Linked DNA regions of Homo sapiens: region 2 is linked to region 1. Evidence: fine-mapped QTL for protein levels in blood plasma. Region 1 holds a variant in brackets. A gene starts in the other region. All regions are shown on their forward strands.

What was found. A credible set is the group of variants that fine-mapping cannot tell apart. PIP is the posterior inclusion probability: the model's chance that the variant is causal. Protein levels are from antibody-based Olink assays in UK Biobank. Linkage for the fine-mapping came from a reference panel and not from the study's own genotypes, which makes the PIPs less certain.
Region 2: CCL20 starts here. The variant in region 1 is the best candidate, but not a certain one, in a credible set for the plasma level of the CCL20 protein (UK Biobank, PIP 0.82).

What each region holds. Positions count from the first base shown.
Region 1 is chr17:74,758,902-74,768,499 of GRCh38, forward strand. It overlaps NHERF1 (NHERF family PDZ scaffold protein 1), which reads left to right. Exons shown (of 6, transcript NM_004252.5): 2 at 3,111-3,272; 3 at 4,466-4,619; 4 at 8,035-8,075; 5 at 9,246-9,335; 6 at 9,567-9,598. Among named protein-coding and RNA genes, the nearest start is that of NAT9, 13 kb to the right of the region's middle. RefSeq lists enhancers at 1-686, 687-1,434, 4,087-4,838. The variant C/G (reference allele first, on the strand shown) is at 6,155.
Region 2 is chr2:227,808,088-227,818,549 of GRCh38, forward strand. It overlaps CCL20 (C-C motif chemokine ligand 20), which reads left to right and starts at 5,755. Exons shown (of 4, transcript NM_004591.3): 1 at 5,755-5,900; 2 at 7,367-7,481; 3 at 8,220-8,297; 4 at 8,975-9,469. The coding sequence starts at 5,825. The coding sequence ends at 8,996. RefSeq lists an enhancer at 9,692-10,462.

The DNA of each region.
Region 1 (9,598 bases):
TGCCCCAAGGGACTCCCCTGCCAGCCCCAGCCTCCACCCAGGCTGGGATGGGCTGGCTTGATGGGCTGACTCAGCAACTGGCACTGACACCTCCTGGAGACAGCTGGGAGGCTCCTGCTAGGGAGGGGTGAGGAGGAACAAGGCTGGTCTCCCTTGAAGAGTGGGAACCCCCCTTCCCATGTGAGGGGAGGAAGTCTCTAGGGACTTGGGAAGGAGGCTCTGCAGGTGCATCGGAGCTGTCTAAATGCTGGTGGGGTCTACCGGGGGCTTCCCATCTCCTTGTCCAGCCACCCCCTCAGGTCCTGGAGCCGCCACAGAGCCACATCTAGACAGAACAGTGGAGCAGGTCCCAGTGCAGGGGAAGGAAACAGAGGGCACCTGAGCCCCTCAGGCTGGGTACCCTGTTTCCCCTTGAACTGCACGACTTGGTGCTGGCAGAGCGGAGCAAGGCTCAAAGCAGGCCCTGGAGCTTTGGCACCATATGTCACTAGGCGAGGGGCACTGGGCTGAAGATCAGTAAGGGAAGCCCACAGCACAGAGACCAGGGCCAGAGGATGGGCATCCCAAAGGCAGCTAGCACAGCCCTGCCCTGCCAGCCGGGGGGGGCGCCCAGAGCCACCTGCCCCCAGTCCAGCCATGCCCCTGCCCTGTCACCCACACCAGGCTTCATCCCCCAGCTCAGGCTGCAGCTCCAGCTGCGAGAGGCCCTGAGCGCCCGGAAGGAAGGCTGTGGTAGGTTGTGGTTTCTTCAGCTCCCAGCCTACCTCCAGCAGAGGCTGCAGCCGATGCCCTGGAGAGAGCCCCTGTCTGCCCTCTGCTGCCTGACTCCTGTTGGGTCCTCACCTCCCAATGGGTTGCCCCATTCTGGACTTGGATCCTTAAGGAGCACCCTGCAGTGTGGTGGAAGGAGGACAGGTTCCAAGTCAGAGACCAGGGTTGGAGTTCTGGCTGTGTGATGTCAGGCAGTGGGCTCCACATCTCTGAGCCTCAGTTTCCCCATCTCAAAAACAGCTGACAAGCCCCAGTCAGGTTGTTATGGGAAGGTTTTTGGGAGCGCAGGGACGGTGGAGGGAGGTTGGAGGAGGTCACTAGAGCTGCCCCCTGCCTGTCCTGAGATTTCACCCTCCCCACTTTCTCAGGGTGTCTGGCTGAAGCAGAAAGCTGCGCCTGTCCTGGTGACGGCGACTGGTCAGACTTGTTTCTGCTCACCTAGGCGGCCCGGGGGAGGGCCTGGCTGGGAGCTTTGTGGAGGGATTAGCTCTAGGGGAGAAGAGCCTCACTTACTCCCGGAACAAGATCCCACAGGGCTGTGGGAGTGCCGGGGGGTGAGCCTGGGGCAGGTGACAGCCGAACTAGCTGGGAGTGGGCCCTGCAGTGAGGCAGGGGGTGGGCCAGGGAGAACAAGGCAAGAGGAGCTTCATTCAGGGTTCCTGAGCCTTTGTGAGCCACTCACGTTTTTACCACTCACTTAACCGTCTTTGTTGTTGGGGTGAGGGGTCCTCGAGCCTGGATTTGGGTATGAAAACCCAGGCAAGAAAGACCTGCCCAAGCCTTTAAAGGAATGCAAAGTCATCCTCTAGCCACCCCCAGAGATCGAAAGGCTGGGGATTGAGTCTCCTGCAGATGGTGGCGGCCTCCTGGGGCTGGCAAGTTGGGACAGAGGCCCATAAGCCCTCCTGGGCGCGCCTTCCCACCCCTCTCGGCCCTCTCCACTCCCAGCTGGGGATTTGGGTTTCAGAGCAGCCTGGCACACACACCCCCACCCCACCAGAATCTCACTCCCAGCTTCCTATGACTATTCATTAGTATTCACAACAATGGGAAAGTCTGGGTGTGCACAGGGATTTTTTACAGTTAGAAAGTGTTTAAGTCAATGACCTCACTGGGCCTCAGCAACCCTGGGAGGCAGATGGCAGTCAGAATGATCCATAAATGACCTGCCCCAGGTCACACAGCTCCTAAACAGGGGAGCTGGAACCTGGCTGGGAGCCTTGACTATCCACTGCTCATTGTCTGATGTGCTGAGTGATAACACAGGGCCAGCAGGCTGGACAGCAGCCAGTGGCCCTGCACCAGGCCTGGAGGAGGGGGAGAGGGACAGGGACTCAGGCGTAGTCCTTGGGCACAGGCTTCGGCTGCCTACACCCATATTCCCTCCATCATACTGTGTGTCCAGGCCTGCAGCTTCTAAGCTGAGCTGCTTACTTTGGACCAAGCATGTTGGAAACTGTTTTCAGCTGAGTCCAAGCACTCGAAATCTGCGTGTGCCCTTTTAGTAGGTCACACCCTCCAGGCCACAGCCACACTGGGCTCCCTTTAGCCCAGCCCTGCTTTTCCCAGTCCCCTCCCCATTCAGGCTCCTCTGTTTCTGGGGTCTCTGTGCTTCCGTTGCCACCTCTGCCCTTGGGCAGCGGTGTCGGGGGAGGAGGTCCTGGAACGCCTGAGGATGGCCCCGTCTTGTCCAGGTCCCCTTGCTGTGCTGAACAATAAGTTTTTGGTTATCTGCTCCTTCTGGCTCCCTTTTGGCTGGGCCATTCGGCTTGGTGGGGGTGAGAGAGAGTTCGAGTATATGGAGGAAGGCTTTACTGTAAACACACTGACCAGCTTTCAGTAAACACCTGCCTCTTCCTCCCCTGCTGCAGAGAACGGGGTACAAAGGGGCTGGGGGTCCTCAGTCATATGCCCCAGGTCCCCAGCCAGGCTGACGGGTGCCACACTCTGCCCCCTCTCCAGGAGGGCCAGACTGAGCCACCAATGGGGAGGGATAGAGGCCCGATCAACACAGCATGTGATTCACCTTAGACTGTCAGAAGGGACAGGCATGTGAGAGCTAACCTGGTCCTACCCCTCATTTGGCAGAAGAGGAAACTGAGGCTTGGACAGAGCAGTGTTTTATCCACATCACCTAAGCAGTTAGCTGCGGTGCTGGGTATCCACACAAGTCTTTTGAGTCCTGGGCCAGAACCCTCTCAAATTGCTGTGTAGGGATCTAGGCAAATTTGCATCCTCCCAAACCTTCCTTGGTTGGGGAGATGGGGACAGGCAGAGGACAGGGAAGGCAGAACCTGGGGCACTGTGGAATAGCCATGGACCCTCCCCTGTCCCTGCAGCGCGAGCTTCGGCCTCGGCTCTGTACCATGAAGAAGGGCCCCAGTGGCTATGGCTTCAACCTGCACAGCGACAAGTCCAAGCCAGGCCAGTTCATCCGGTCAGTGGACCCAGACTCCCCGGCTGAGGCTTCAGGGCTCCGGGCCCAGGATCGCATTGTGGAGGTGATGCTTCTCGCTCTCTTCCTATCTGACTGCCCCCACCCCCTGCAGATCAGCAGCACCTGGGGCAGCCATCATACCATCATGGGCTTGATTAGCCCACGGGCATAGCCAACCTGGAGCTGCTGGATGGATGGGTGGATGGGAGGGAGGGAGGGAAGGGTGGTGGATGGATAGACGGAAGGACAGATGGACTGACTGATGGACTCTTCTCTTACCTCCACTCCCCTGGACTCCTCCTTGCCAAGCAGATACAGTGGGCAGCCTGTGATTCACCCATCGATCAGGGAGATGTCTGGGGCCATCTCCAGAGCTTCCCTGCTGCCAGGCACACAGAGTGGGGTGGCAGTAACAAAACCCCTCTCCTGAGTTAGGCCTTTATTTATTTAGTTTTTTTTTTTTTAAATGGAGTCTCGCTTTGTTGCCCAGGCTGGGGGAGTGCAGTGGCACAATCCCAGCTCACTGCAACCTCCGCCTCCTGGGTTCAAGCGATTCTCCTGCCTCAGCCTCCTGAGTAGCTGGGATTACAGGTGCCCACCACCACGCCTGGCTAATGTTTGCATTTTTAGTAGAGACAGGATTTCACCATGTTGGCCAGGCTGGTCTCAAACTCCTGACCTCAAGTGATCTGCCCGCCTCGGCCTCCCAAAGTGCTGGGATTCCAGGCGTGAGCCACCTCACCCGGCCCCGAGTTAGGCTTTTAGACTCGTGCATTCAGGGCTCTGGTGCTGTGCTCCTGGGAGAGGAAACGTGAACCAAATGCTCAGGCAGGTCCCAGAATCACAGTCTTAGAACCTTAGAGCTAGAGATCAGCTCTCCCAAGACTTCTCATTTTACACGTGAGAAAACCAAGGCCCAGAGAAGGAAGTCGGACAGCAAGTCCTTACCCAGGCTGGGCCCCACCCCGGCCTCCCAGCTCGCTCCCATCCCATCTCTCCCAGCTGTGTTTGTTTAGTCTCGTCTGGATATTTTCGTTGGCCCTTCCCATGTATCCTGCCTCCCCAGCTGACTGTCAATGGGAGGACCCCCAGCCTAGTTCAGGACTCTGCAGAAATGGCGGGGGTCAGTATCCCCAGGTTGTGAACTGCAAACTGGCTGAGAACCAAGGTGGTCACCCCTGCCCCCAACCCCCCTCCACTTACCTGCCCCAGAACCAAGGCCTGTGTCCGTAACGCCTCCCCGACCCTGCCCTGCAGGTGAACGGGGTCTGCATGGAGGGGAAGCAGCATGGGGACGTGGTGTCCGCCATCAGGGCTGGCGGGGACGAGACCAAGCTGCTGGTGGTGGACAGGGAAACTGACGAGTTCTTCAAGAAATGCAGAGTGATCCCATCTCAGGAGCACCTGAATGGTAAGCCAGGTGGGGCCACTGGCCGTCCTGGGGCTGGAGCCCCCCAAGTCAGGGATGTGAGCCAGGGCTAAGACTGCTGGGTCCCAGGCGAGGGGTGGGCAGCTTCCCGGCATGGGTGCTCCCTCCTCCTCCTTCATGGGAGGCCCAGAGGTGTGGGCTGGGGGAGCGGGGGCCTAGTGTAGGGAGTGGCAGTGGGTTTCTGAGGACGGCTTGTGATGGGGTCAGCTGGCATGAGGTCGGTGAGAGAGATGGACAGATCTTCTTATTCCCGGCCAAAGCTGCAGCCCCAAAGGAGGCCCAAGCCCCCAGTCCTGTCCCCACCAGCAGACTTTCAGGGCAGTGTCAATGTGAGGAAAGGGTTAACTCCGGGGAGGCCTCCAGCCTTTGCTTGGTCAGATCAGAGTCCAGTGACGGGGGCCGGTGCCTCCCCCTCCCTCCTCTCAGGTTGTCTTGGAAACTCAGCCTTGCTGGCTCTAGAGAGTAGTGGGTCCCCCTTCAATCCCTGGGCCCCTGCCCTCCCCATCCCCCACCATCACCCTGCCAAGCCTGGCGCCTCCCCCTGCCCAGGCCCGAGCCAAACAGGGCAGGGCTGCTGCACCGGGGCAGGGAGGGGTTAAGCATGCTCTGCTCCTTGGTCTGGACTTTCTCCCTGGGAAGATGGCTCCCTGGAGCGGGCAGGGGTGCTCACTGGGCCATACTGAGGGTGGAACCTCTTGGGACTTTGCAGTGGGTGGGGCCTCCTGGAGACTCAAGGTTGTATGTGTAAAAGGAGATTCACACAAAGGTCCTGCGACTCCCATCGCCAGCTGCAAGGGCCCACTGGGGAGGCCCTGTCCCCTTCTGGCGCAATCCAAGGCCTGAGGCTCCTAGAAGAGGGGATGGCCCCTGGAAGTCCCTAGCTGGCTCTGGGCATGGGAGGTGGGGTACCGCCTTACCCTTATCTCCCAAGTTCATGGAAACCAGGTAACTCAGATAATCCCCTTCTCCACTGAGGGGGAGACTAAGGCCCAGAGAAGCCCCAGCCTTCCTCCTAGGGATCTGATACGAGGAAGACACAGCTGGAATCTGGATTCCACTCAGCTCCTGGGATACTGTCCCCTGCTTCCCCCACCCCTTCACCCTGCAGGTAATTGGCCCCCTCAGACATTCCTCCCTCTTCTGCCTGTCTCTCGGGCTAGAGGGGCTGCAGCCTCTGGCCAAAGGACCTGAAGAGGGAGAGGCCTGGGGACAGTCCCCTCCCCGCAGTCCCTCCAGGATGGCATCCTCACCCTTTCCATAGGGAGGAATGCCCCCCTCTCCGGCTGCCAGGGTTTCACCCTGACCACTGTGAGCTGATGGGGAGGGGACAGTGAGTGACCCTGTGTCCCAGCAGCCTGTCCTTGCCCGGGGAAGGCTGTGGGTGTCAAAAGGGAGGAGAAGATGAGAGTCAGGTATCTCTGGCTGTGTCCTGGACTGGGGACAGGGAAAAGATAACCAGGAATTTTAAGCTAAGAGTTCAGAAGAAGCCCTACACTGACCAGTCCCTGGAGATGGAA[C/G]AGCCACCCCTGAAGCCATGTGGGACCCCTACCCTGAGTGAGCCCAGTGAAGGTGACCCCAGACCTGTCTTCTCTCCCTCTGACCCCTCCAGGTTTCCCACTGGCTGGGGGAGGGGATACCCAGGACACACCCCTTGAGCCTTCTCGTCCCCCCTCATTTCCTGATTGGCAAATAGGAGTTGGGATTATTTTCTCTTTTTTTCTTTTTCTTTTTCTTTTTTTTGAGATGGAGTCCTGCTCTGTCACCCAGGCTGGAGTGCAGTGGTGCGATCTCGGCTCACAGCAACATCTGCCCCTAGATTCAAGTGATTCTTCTGCCTCAGTCTCCTGAGTAGCCGGGACTACAGCCATGCGCCACCACGCCCAGCAAATTTTTATATTTTTAGTAGAGATGGGGTTTCACTATGTTGGCCAGGATGGTCTCGATCTCTTGACCTTGTGATCCGCCCACCTCGGCCTCCCAAAGTACTGCGATTACAAGTGTGAGCCACCGCGCCTGGCCTTTTTTTTTTTTTTTCCGGACACAGTCTCTGTCACCCAGGCTAGAGTGCAATGGCACAATCTTGGCTCACTGCAACCTCCACCTCCTGGGTTCAAGCAATTCTCCTGCCTCAGCCTCCTGAGTAGCTGGGATTACAGGCGCCTGCCACCATGCCCGGCTAATTTTTGTATTTTTAGTAGGGATAGGGTTTCGCCATGTTGGCCAGGCTGGTCTTGAACTCCTGACCTCAGGTGATCCGCCTGCCACAGTCTCCCAAAGTGCTGGGGTCCCAGTCATGAGCCACCGAGCCCAGACTATTTTCTCTTTCAGTTGAGGCAGGTACTAACTATAGTCTGGGGTGTGGTTCCAATTTTGGTGTCATCATCATCACCTGGGAAGCGTTTGGAAAATGTTGATTCTTAGGCCTGCCCACTAAACCAGAATCTGTGCTGCCAAGGTCCAGGAATCTGTACTTTAACAAGCTTCCCACGTAGGAGTTCCCAGGTAGGAATTCCCAGGTAGGAATTAGGCAGCCATCCTCGAATTTCATCCCCATCTGAGACAATACATTTTTTAAACACCTTGTGACCCATCAGTGCCTCATAAGATCAATTTAGTAGATAGAGACCAGCAGGTTTTTTGGTTTGTTTTTTTTGTTTTGTTTTGTTTTGTTTTGTTTTGCCAGAGTCTTGCTGTGTTGCCCAGGCTGGAGTGTAGTGGCGTGATCTCGGCTCACTGCAACCTCCACCTTCTGGGTTCAAACAATTTTCCCACCTCAGCCTCCCAAGTAGCTAGGATTACAGGCGTGTGCCACCATGCCCAGCTAATTTTCTTTTTGTCTTTTTTAGTAGAGACGGGGTTTCACCATGTTGGCCAGGCTGGTCTCAAACTCCTAACCTCAAGTGATCCAGGTGCCTCGGCCTCCCAAAGTGCTGGGATTACTGGTGTGAGCCACTATGCCTGGCCCAGACATTTTTTTGTTTTTTTTAATGAAATGAAATTAAAAATATCAAAGAACACTGTAGTAAGGGTGTTGCTTTGTGAAACTTTTATCACACAAAATCTTTGTGTGTGCTGAGTCATCAAAATGGCAAACGTAGGCCAGACATTTGCTCACACCTGTAATCCCAACACTTTGGGAGGCCAAGGTGGAAGGATTGCTTGGGGCTAGGAGTTTGAGACCATCCTGCATGACATGGCAAGGCCCCATCTCTATAAAAAAAAAATTTTTTTTAAATAAATAAGGCAAATGTATTCATGGTGGGTGGTAGTCAAAAAAGTTTGAGATGTTGACCCAGGGAACAAGATCTAATAATCTGCCCAAACCCAACTCCTACCTCCTCTCCACGCTCTATTCCATCCCCGTTCTGGACTCACCTCTGCTCTGTCCTTTGCCTAGGTCCCCTGCCTGTGCCCTTCACCAATGGGGAGATACAGAAGGTAAGGGCGGGTCCCCTGTCTCTTTGGATTTCAATCCTTGGGGTGCATGAGACAGATCAGAAGGTGCTGTGGTTGGTAGGATAGCCATCTGACTAAGGCCAAAACCCCAGGGTCCCCAGTTCCAGCTCCTTCTTCAGCTCCAAGCTATAGAACTGCCAGAACCCTCTTGGCCTCTGCCTGGGGCCAAAGCTGTCAGGAGGGAGCGGGCTGGCTGGGCCCCTCTGCAGCCCGCCATCCTGGGTGACAAGCCCCCGCCTCCAACTCCCCACCATACAGAAGGGGCCATTCTTCCCCCCAAGAACAGAGCTTCAGTGTCTGGCCACGGGCAGCCGGGCCCCTGCTACTTCTAGTCTGGGTTGGAAGAACAAAGCCCCTCCTCCCCCCTTCCCTGGGCAGAAGGGAAAGGGGGTGAGGCCCGGGGAAGAGATGGTGGGGCTGGGCGCCAGCTGAAGCCATGGAGGAACCCAGGAAGGGGCTGGGTGCCAAGCTGACGCCCCAGCCAAAGCCTTCGCTCTGGGACAGGCCGACTCAGTCAGGCCACAGAGCAGGAACTCTGCAGGGTCTGCTTAAAGGTTCCCCTTCCCTAGGAGCTCCTGCCAGGGTACTTGGCAAGGGGGAGGGCCCTTGGACCCAGCCCTCAACCTTCTTTCACCTCATCTTTGGATCTAGAACTTTCCATCCACCTTCTTCTTTCAAGGCCCTCCTTTGCTGCTTCAGGGTTAGGGTTTCAGGATTCCTGGGGTCAAATCCTGGCAAACAGTCAGGTGGACCACATGAGATTCAGGGAGCACCACATGGGCTCCCCATGCCCCCATGTGTCCCCACATTCCAAGAAGCCCCTCCCTGGTCACTGGCCCAAAAGGCAAGCCAGTACCTAAAAGCCACATTGGAGTGGCCCAGGGAGAGGGAGCGGTTCAGCTAATCCCATGATGGTCTGTTCCCATCCCATCCCTCCAGCCTGAGCAGTAGAACCAGCCTGCCCTCTGATCCCCAAAGGAATGTAAAAAGGAGCCCCAGCAGGCTCAGGAGGTGGGAACCAGGGGTGGGTGGCCAGGGCATCAGTGCTACCTCTTCTCAGTCTGAGGCCCCTACTTCCCCAGGAGCTCCCTCCCTCCTCAGGACCCCCTCACCCCATCCTCTGACAACCCACAACCCTCTCCTCTCTGCCAGGAGAACAGTCGTGAAGCCCTGGCAGAGGCAGCCTTGGAGAGCCCCAGGCCAGCCCTGGTGAGATCCGCCTCCAGTGACACCAGCGAGGAGGTAGGCCAGCCATGCGGGGGGTGGCAACTGGGTTACAGGAAGCCGATTCCCAGGCCCCACTTGTTCCTGGCACACCAGCCTGCCTTTGAGGTCACATGCTGAGCCGCATTCTGTTCTTGTGACCTGGCTTCCCTGGGCACGGCCCCAACGGAGCCACCTCACCAAGGCTGAGGACCAGGGAGCCTAATGAGGGACTGACTCCCAACTTCCTGCCCCCACTTCTCTTTACAGCTGAATTCCCAAGACAGCCCCCCAAAACAGGA
Region 2 (10,462 bases), not on the chromosome of region 1:
AACCATCAACCATATGTATTTATAAATAAAAAATAAAAAACAAACCACATACCCCTTAGCAGTCACTCCCCAATCCCCTTCCCTTCCCTGGACACCACAACCCAGCCCTAGGCAGTCACTATTCTACTTCTCCTCTCCATAGATTCACCATTTCTGAACATTTTATGTAAATGGAATCAGACAATATGTGGTCTTTTGTGCTTGGCTTTTCCACTTAGCATAGTGTTTTCAAGGTTCATCCGTTTTGTAGTTTCTTTTTTCTTTTGGAGAAAGAGTCCCACTCTGTCACCCAGGCTGGAGTACAGTGGCACGATCTTGGCTCACTGCAACCTTCACCTCCCAGGTTCAAGCAATTCTCCTGCCTCAGCTTCCCAAGTAGCTGAGATTACAGGTGCAAGCCACCACTCCTGGCTAATTTTTGTATTTTTAGTAGAGATGGGGTTCTGTCATGTTGGCCAGGCTGGTCTCAAACTCCTGACCTCAAGTGATCCGTCTTCCTTGGCCTCCCAAAGTGCTGGGATTACAGGTGTGAGCCACCATGCCCAGCTTCATTTTGTAGTTTCTATCAGTATCTTATTGCTGAATAATATTTCGTTGTATTGATTTGCCAGGTTTAATTTATTTATATATCAGTTTATAACTTTTGGGCTGCTTCTACTTTTTTGGCTATTATGAATAATGCTGCTACAAACATTCACGTACACATTTTTGTGTGGACATATATTTTCATTTCTGTTGGGTGTAAACCTGGGAGTAGAATTGCTGGGTCACATGGTAACTCTCTAATTAACTATTTGAGGAATTGTCAAAGTGTCTTCCAAAATGACTGCACCATTTTTTTATTTCCATCAACAACATATAAGGATTCCAATTTCTCTACATCATTGCCAACACTTATTATTTGTCTTTTTGGTTATAGCTATCCTAGTGGATGTGAAGTGGTATGTCATGGTGGTTTTGATTTGCATTTTCCTACTTACTAAAAATTTTGAGCATCTTTTTATGTGCTTGTTGGACATTTATTTATCTTCTTAGGAGAAATGTCTATTCAGCTGTTTTCCTCATTTTTTAATTGGGTCACTCATCTTCTTCTTATTGAGTTGTAAGAGTTCTTTATATATTCTCTATACAAGTAAATGTCCCTTATCATATATATGACTTGCAAATTTTTCCTTTCCTTTCTATGCGTTTTCTTTTCACATTCTTTATAGTGTCCTTTGAAGCATAAAAATGTTTAGTTTTGATTTGGTCCAGTTCGTTAATTTTTAATTTTATTGTTTGAGCTTTTGGTGTTGTATCTAACAAGTCATTGCCCAACCCAAGGTCATGAAGATTTTCTCCTATGTTTTCTTCTAAGAATTTCATGTTTTTAACTCTTACATTGAGATCTATGATCCATTTTGAATTAATTTTTATATATAGTGTGAAGTAATGGTCTAACTTTATTCTTTTGCTGTGAATATCCAGTAGTTCCAGCACTATTTGTTGAAAAGACTGTTCTTCCCCCATTGAATGGTCTTGCCACCCTAACACAAAATCAGTTGACCATAGACATGGGGGCTTATTTCTCAATTGTATGCCATTGATGTGAACACTCATGCAATTTTCACATGTCTTGATTTAGTGTGATTTTTTAGTAAATTTTGAAATCAGAAAGTGTGAGTCTTCCAACTTTATTCTTCCTTTTTGGGATTGTTTTATCAATTCAAGGTCCCTTGCAATTTCACATGAATTTGAGTATTGGCTTTTCCATTTCTACAAAGAAGCCAGCCAGGATTTTAATAGAAATTGTGTTAAATAGGCCGGGCATGGTGGCTCACACCTGTAATCTCAACACTTTAGGAGTCTGAGGTGGGCGGAGCACCTGAGGTCAGGAGTTCAAGACCAGACTGGCCAACATGGCGACACCCTGTCTCTACTAAAAATACAAAATTAGCAAGGTGTGATGGTGCATGATTGTAGTTCCAACTACTTGGGAGGCTGAGGCAGGAGAATTGGCTGAACCTGGGAGGCAGAGGTTGCAGTGAGCCGAGATTGCGCCATTGCACTCCAGCCCGGGCAACAAGAGTGAAACTCCATCTCAAAAAAGAGAGAGAGAGAGAGGAAAAGAAAAGAAATTGTGTTGAATAGAAGCGGTGAGACTGAACATCCTTGTCTTGTCCTTGATCTCAGGGAAAAGGCAGTAAGTCTTTCAACATTGAGTGTGCTATCAGCTATGAGGCAGTCATAGATGACCTTTATCAGGTTGAGATGTTCTCTGCTATTCCTAGTTTGTTGAGTGTTTTGTCATGAGAAGGTGCTGGATTTTGTTAGTTACTTTTCATATAGTTTTTATTTTTATTCAATTAATTTGTAGTATTACATTTCCTGGAATAAATCCCACTTGTTATGGTGTATGGTCCTTTTACTATGTTGTTTTGTTTTTGTGTTTGTATTCGGAAAGGACATTGGTCTGTTGTTTTCTTTTCTTGTGATGTGTTTATCTTATTTTGGTGTCAGGATAATACTGTCCTCATAGAAGAAGTTGAAGAGGGTTCCCTTCTCTTCTATACTTTGAAAAAGTTTGTGAAGAACTGGTATTAATTCTTATTTGAATGTTTTGTAGAATTAACCAGTGAATTAATCTGGTCCTGAGGTTTTATTTGTGAAAAATATTTGGTTATCAATTTGATATCTTTACTTGTTATAGCTCTATTCAAATTTTCTATTTTTTTTTTGAGATGGAGTCTTGCTGTGTCGCCCAGGCTGGAGTACAATGACACGATCTTGGTTCACTGCAACCTCTACCTCCCGGGTTCACGCCATTCTCCTGCCTCAGCCTCCCTAGTAGCTGGGATCACAGGTGCCCGCTACCACACCAGGCTAATTTTTTGCATTTTTAGTAGAGACAGGGTTTCACCATGTTAGCCAGGATGGTCTCGATCTCCTGACCTTGTGCTCCTTCCGCCTTGGCCTCCCAAAGTGCTGGGATTACAGGCATGAGCCACCACGCCCATCCCAAATTTTCTATTTTCTTCTTGAATCAGGGTCAATAATTTGTGTCTTTCATCTCTATTCGTATCAGCTGTGAGGTGGTCATAGATGACTTTTATCAGGTTGAGAAAGTTCTCAACTATTCCTAGTTAGTTGAGTGTTTTTGTCATGACAACGTGTTGGATTTTGTCAGTTGCTTTTCAAATCATTTTTATTTTTTATTTGATTGATTTGTTGTATTACATTTCCTGGAATAAATCCCACTTGGTTATGGTGTATGATCTTTTTACTGTGCTGTCGGCATAGTAATTTTATTTGCATACAGTTTTTTTTTTTTTTTTTTTTTTTTTACCTCCCTTTCCTTTGTTTGGTTTGGTCTAGTCAAGGCTTGTTAGTTTTGTTGATCTTCTCAAAGAACTAACTTTCGCATTCGTTGATTTCCTCTATTGTTTTGCATTCTCTGTTTTATTTATTCCTGCTCTAATCTTCATTTCCCTCCTTCTGCATGCTTTGGGTTTAGCTTGCTCTGCTTTTCTCTAGTTTCTTAAGGTAGAAGTTTGGGTTATTGTTTTGAGATGTTTCTTTTTTTTTTTTTTTAATGTGAGTGTTTACAGCTATAAGTTTCCTTCTGAGGACTGCTTTTGCTACATCCTATAAGTTTTGATATGTTGTGGACTTTTTTTTACATTTCAAAGTTGTTTTCTACTTTCTCTAGTGACTTTTCTTTTGACACATTGTTGTTGTTGTTGTTGTTTTTTCCTTTGAGATGGAGTCTCTGTTGGCCAGGTTAGAGGGCAGTAGCGTGATCTCGGCTCGCCGTAACTTCTGCTTCCTGGGCTCATGCGATTCTCCTGCCTCAGCCTCCCAAGTAGCTGGGATTACAGGCATGGACTACCACACCCGGCTAATATTTGTATTTTTAGTAGAGACAGGGTTTCACTATGTTGGCCAGTCTGGTCTCGAACTCCTGACCTCAGGCAGTCCACCCACCTCGGCCTCCCAAAATGCTAGGATTACAGGCATGAGCCACCACTCCTGGCCAGACACATTGGTTATTTAGGAATATGTGGTTTCCTTTCTGTCTGTTACTGATTTCTGATTTAATTCCATTGTGGTTTGAATGTATACTTTATGTGATTTCAGTCGGTTTACATTTACTGAGACTTGTTCCATAACCTACCATATGCTTTATCCTAGAGAACATTCCATGTGCAACTATTCTGTTGATGTTGGATAGAGTAGTCCTTCGATGCCTGCTAAGTCTATTTGGCTTATAGTGTTGTTCAAGTCTTCTATTTTCTTGTGGATCTTCTGCCTAAATTTTATTAATTAGTGAAAATGTGGTACCAAAGCTGTCAACTTTTATTGTTAAATTTCCTATTCTGCTGGGCACGGTGGCTCATGCCTGTAATGAGGTCAGGAGTTCAGCCTGGGCAACATGGTGAAACCACGTCTCTACTAAAAATACAAAAATTCGCTGGGCGTGGTGGCACGTGCCTGTAGTCCCAGCTACTCAGGAGGCTGAGGCAGGCGAATCGCTTGAACCCAGGAGGCGGAGGTTGTAGTGAGCCGAGATGGTGCCACTGCACTCCAGCCTGGGCAACAAGAGCAAAATTCTGTCTCAAAAGAAATTATAATAATAAAATAAAATAAAATTTCCTATTCTTCCCTTCAATTCTGTCAGTTTTTGCTTTCTGTAGTTTGGGGTGCTACTGTTAGGTATATATATGGTTATAGGTTTTACATCTTCCCAATGGGTTAATTTTGTGTTACCATGAAAGTCCCTTTTTATTTCCGGTAACATTAAAAAAAAATCTATTTTGTCTGATATAGGCATCACCAACTCCAGTTCTCTTTTGTTTACTGTTTGGTATACCTTTCTTTTGATCCTTTTACTTTCAACCTATTTGGGTCTAGTGGAGAGTTCTTATACTGCCTTAGGTTAGGGATTCATATTACATTATCATCATTAGTACTGTTATTTGACATTTGCTGTGCTGACTAGCTACTGCTGATAGGTTTTCTTTCCTCAACAATTCTGAGGCTCTATATTGAGTTATATTAGTACATCATCATGGAGAGTTAAAGGTAGGTAAGGATTATTTTCTGAACTGCAATATTGATTAAAGCCATGTGAATGTATAAGATTCTTAGAAGAGTTGACATTAAATCAAGGTGAAGCTGAGGTTTGAGCCTTACTTAAAGGCTGATATTTTCCACTCTAACTGCGGACAGTACTGTAGCACTGTTATAGTACCTGCTCTGAATGTTAGTCTAGCAACTCAGGGTCTTCTTCATGACAGCTGAACCTCAACCATGTGATGGTAAATGTGTAGCAGAGTATGCCTGGCATCCCACCTGCTCCTCCTCCCCCTCCTCCTTGACTGGTTCTGGAAAGCAAATAGGGTGTAACAATAGGAGTTCTGGAATGTTCCTGTGTGGGGCTGACCTTTGTATCGCTGTTAATCCTCTATTTTCAGACACAAAAATGATTAAGTTAAAACTGGATGAAAGTCTTTTCTGGGTCACAGGGCTGAGCTGCTTTTGCTCTTTGCAAATACAAAGAATTTAACAGGATTCTCCCCTTCTCAACTTCCTGTCCCCCACCCTGACCTTCGCACCTTCCCAATATGAGGAAAAAGCAGGAAGTTTTCCTTGCGGGTTTTTTTTATGATGACATGATGGGGCCAGTTGATCAATGGGGAAAACCCCATGTGGCAACACGCCTTCTGTGTACATTCCCAATATTTGCTATAAATAGGGCCATCCCAGGCTGCTGTCAGAATATAACAGCACTCCCAAAGAACTGGGTACTCAACACTGAGCAGATCTGTTCTTTGAGCTAAAAACCATGTGCTGTACCAAGAGTTTGCTCCTGGCTGCTTTGATGTCAGTGCTGCTACTCCACCTCTGCGGCGAATCAGAAGGTAAGTGTCGCTCTTTCCGCTAGCACAGAAGAAAGACTATTTTCATTTTCCTTTTAGCCTTGAGCTCAACTGGGGGTCCCTAAGGGATGGAAAACTGTTAGGAAGTATACAAGAGGTAGTGATGGAAGTTGTCTGCCCATGGTGGAGTGGAGGAGAGAAGAGTTACTGCTGCGGATCAGGCTTTCCTCTCTGCTGTCAATCTCAGCAGATTTGGGGAGTGGTGGGCTCTTAGAGATCCCTAAACTTCAGGATAAAGCCAAAGTGATGTTTCTGGGAGTGATATAAAGTGTGTAATGTTACCAGTAGATGGGGCCATTTTGAAATGTAGAGAATCCTCCTGTGTCCCCAACTTTCGTACCTCCCAACTTAATAGTTTTGGTAAAGTTCAAAACTCATCCTTTAGAAGTAGATTATAATACCTGACATCAACATCCCCACAAGGCATGGGGGACATTGCTTGCCAACTTTAAAATAACATTAATCCCTTACCTTACAGCATGTTGTAATCTGACTCGGGAATGTCCAAGTATTGCTTTATTGCTCAATAGTCACACAACACTTTTAGCAACAGGTGCATTCCTAAAAATGCACATTGAATTTTTTTTTTTTTCTGAGGCAGGGTCTAACTTCATCACCCAGGCCAGAGTGCAGTGGCATGATTACAGCTCACTACAGCCTCAACCTCCTGGAGTCAAGTGAACCTCCAGTCTCAGCCTCTTGAATAACAGGGACCACGGCCGTGTGCCACTCACCTGGCTAATTTTTTTACATTTTTTTTTTTTTTGTAGAGACAGGGTTTCACTGTGTTGCCCAGGCTGGTCTCGAACTCCTGGAGGCAAGCAATCCTTCCTCCTTGGCCTCCCAAAGTGCTGGGATTACAGGCATGAGCCACCATGCCCAACCACATGTTGAACTTTTATGAACAAAATTAAACATTCCTATTAATTAATAGGACAATTTCAAAGTGTTTTCACTCCTATAAATCATATTTCCCTTTGTAGCTCTATTTCTCAATACTTAGTAGCCAGATAATAGATTAAAATCTGCCAATTTATTCATTTTCTGCTTTTGGAAGTTTATCTACATAAGGGTTCCTTCAAGCAGTAGGGAAGGGGCTGCTCATATTCTTGAATGATTATAGTGAACTGAAATGAAATATTGTCAATTTGTATTTCTTACTGAAGATATCCCACTTATGAGAAGTCCTGTGTTTCTCAATTCTATTATTGAACCAAAACTTCTCGGCACACAAACTGTTTTTTCAAAGAACTGTAAACTATGTTAGATTGGTTCTCAACGACCTTACAAAGGTTTCCAAGACATTGAAACTCCTCCTCTAAGTGGTTTATTCGTCATATACATGAGATTCACTAGATTTTTCACAACTTAAGGTAGTTTTATAATACCAATCACAGGATAAGTTTATTCATGTGGATCCAATACCTTTCACTTTTTTTTTTTTTTAGCAGCAAGCAACTTTGACTGCTGTCTTGGATACACAGACCGTATTCTTCATCCTAAATTTATTGTGGGCTTCACACGGCAGCTGGCCAATGAAGGCTGTGACATCAATGCTATCATGTAAGTTATTAATTGATTTTAATTCAGTTGTATCAGGAATACCTAGAAACTTCAGTTTTAAAAATGTTTGCCTTTTTAGAGTTTCATTCAGAAATTACTGATGTTTTGAACATAAGATCTTATTTTAAAGAGAAAGAAATGATGTGGCAAAGATAGCTTTGTCTTAGTACATATCTACTTTAAAGTTCACTTTAAACAGGACTGGAATAAGGCAAAACCTTTTTTAAAAATTTTTTTTGGTCAAACGGAACTAGTATAGGGCAAAAATCACTTTCTAAGGCTATTAAAGTGATATATTAGGAAAATAGGGAAGATACACATTTCGAAATGAGCATCTTCTACCAGAAAGTGTTTGAGACCAAAAGTAAAATCTCAGACTAATTATACTATCACATATAATTTTCTTGATTTATATAGGATATTATATTTTGGAATTATACAAGTTATTGATCAGATACATACATATTCTATGTAACCACCAATAGCAAAATTATATGACAATTCTGGGACTTTATCTTCCTGCCATTGTACTATTATTTGTTACATTGCAGAGAAAGAGAGAATCACTTTGATTTTGCATTAATCTTCATCAGAAGCATTTTTTGTGCATTTTATTTTACCTCATCAACTGAAATGTTTAGTGTGTAATCAACTGGAATATAAAATTTCCATTGTATGTTCTATGAAAAACCCATTGAAAAGCTCATTAAACACAAATCAAATTTTCTGATTTTTCAGCTTTCACACAAAGAAAAAGTTGTCTGTGTGCGCAAATCCAAAACAGACTTGGGTGAAATATATTGTGCGTCTCCTCAGGTATGTTACACTGACATTTAGCCTTTGCAAATGTTTGAGGAAAGAGGAGTGTGCAAAGGGGTGGGCCGTAGGTTTTCTGGGATTCTTTAGTTTAACTATTGTGGAATTTTTAAAGGGAAAATTTGAGTTGGACCACAAAAACAAAGAATGCATTTTTCCACTTACAGATCATCATCGTTATTATTATTTTAATTTAGTGATTTCTTACATGATGTATTAGATTTCTCTATGCATTTGATAGTTACTAGCTGCCTGATTCTTGTTGCAAAGATGCCTACTATTTATATAATTTAAAGGCAATCTGGCATTTGGTTGTTTGTTAAAAACTGAAAAATGAACATTAGTTAAACAGAGATCAATGGTTCTGATTTACGTTGACAATAATAGACAGTAACACTTTATCAATGGACAGAAGGCACCTAACACCAGCATGCCATAGATACTGAACTTGGAGACACAAGATAAGTGTCCATAGCCTGTTTCTGTCATTAATGAGCTGAGTTAGGTTGGGCAAGGGCCATCCTCTCTAAACCTCAATTTCCTCATCTGAACTCTGAGCTGCTTGACATACTGAGTTGAGATTAAGGGCAGGTGAAGCAACCTTTAGGTACCAAAGTCATTCCCACCATGCAGTCACCTTGTCATTACTTACACTTTTCTTCTTTTTCATTTTACAGTAAAAAAGTCAAGAACATGTAAAAACTGTGGCTTTTCTGGAATGGAATTGGACATAGCCCAAGAACAGAAAGAACCTTGCTGGGGTTGGAGGTTTCACTTGCACATCATGGAGGGTTTAGTGCTTATCTAATTTGTGCCTCACTGGACTTGTCCAATTAATGAAGTTGATTCATATTGCATCATAGTTTGCTTTGTTTAAGCATCACATTAAAGTTAAACTGTATTTTATGTTATTTATAGCTGTAGGTTTTCTGTGTTTAGCTATTTAATACTAATTTTCCATAAGCTATTTTGGTTTAGTGCAAAGTATAAAATTATATTTGGGGGGGAATAAGATTATATGGACTTTCTTGCAAGCAACAAGCTATTTTTTAAAAAAAACTATTTAACATTCTTTTGTTTATATTGTTTTGTCTCCTAAATTGTTGTAATTGCATTATAAAATAAGAAAAATATTAATAAGACAAATATTGAAAATAAAGAAACAAAAAGTTCTTCTGTTGATTGAGTTTTATATCATTTTTATGATGTGTATTGAAACCATTTCCAGGCACAGAAAATATAAGAATTTTCTGAGAAATTATATCCTCCACTTACTTCTAGTTGTTCCCTTTATCTCGGCCCCTCATGGCCCTGGACTTGATTTTACATGAATTATAATGGAACAGTTGTTCTTTTTTTTCTTTAATTCAAAGTCGTCCAGATTAAAAGTTGAAAAAGATCCTATATCTGAGATTCATAACCCAATGTTTATTGATTTAAGAAAACTGTTTAAAATAAGAAACCATGCCCACACACCTTTTGACTACAGGGACACAACAACCATTTAGAATATACCTTCAGGCATCACTTCTTCCATCCTTCTGTCACCAGCCAGGATCTCAGCATACGAACATTTCTCCATTTAAAAGTCCTCCCGAGTCATCTTTAAGCAGTTTCCGAAAGGAAAATGACTATTCAGAGAGTTCTTAGTGGCTGCCTTGCTAACCAGCGGGGAGCCCCCAGACGTGTGAAACCTGGTAAGAGCCCAGCAATCAGGATGAAAAGACTCTGAACCAGTAGTTACTATCACTACATTCATGCATCAAGGTTCACAGAGTGCCTCGGATTCCAAAGGACACACAGGATCACTGGAGGCAGGCATGCTGATGATATGATGCAAAATCAAGACACATAAACCCATAAAGTAGGGCAGTGGTGGGTCACTTGATGTGGAGCCAAAAAAGAGTAAGTGGCTCAATAGTCCCCAAGGGCGTCTGCATCCTCAGGAACAGCAACATTGAATCATCAGGGAAAGTATGCTCAACATCCTGTGTGTTGATTCATCATCACACATAGGTTCAGTATGTGCTGGGCACCGTGCCAAGTGCTAGAGAGAAGAAGTGACTTAAAACTTAATAACTTGCTGCTAGATATTTAAGGCTGAGCAATGTGGCGAGAGGCAGGAATGAGTAAAGCAGCTCTTACAACACTTGGTGGTAAGCACT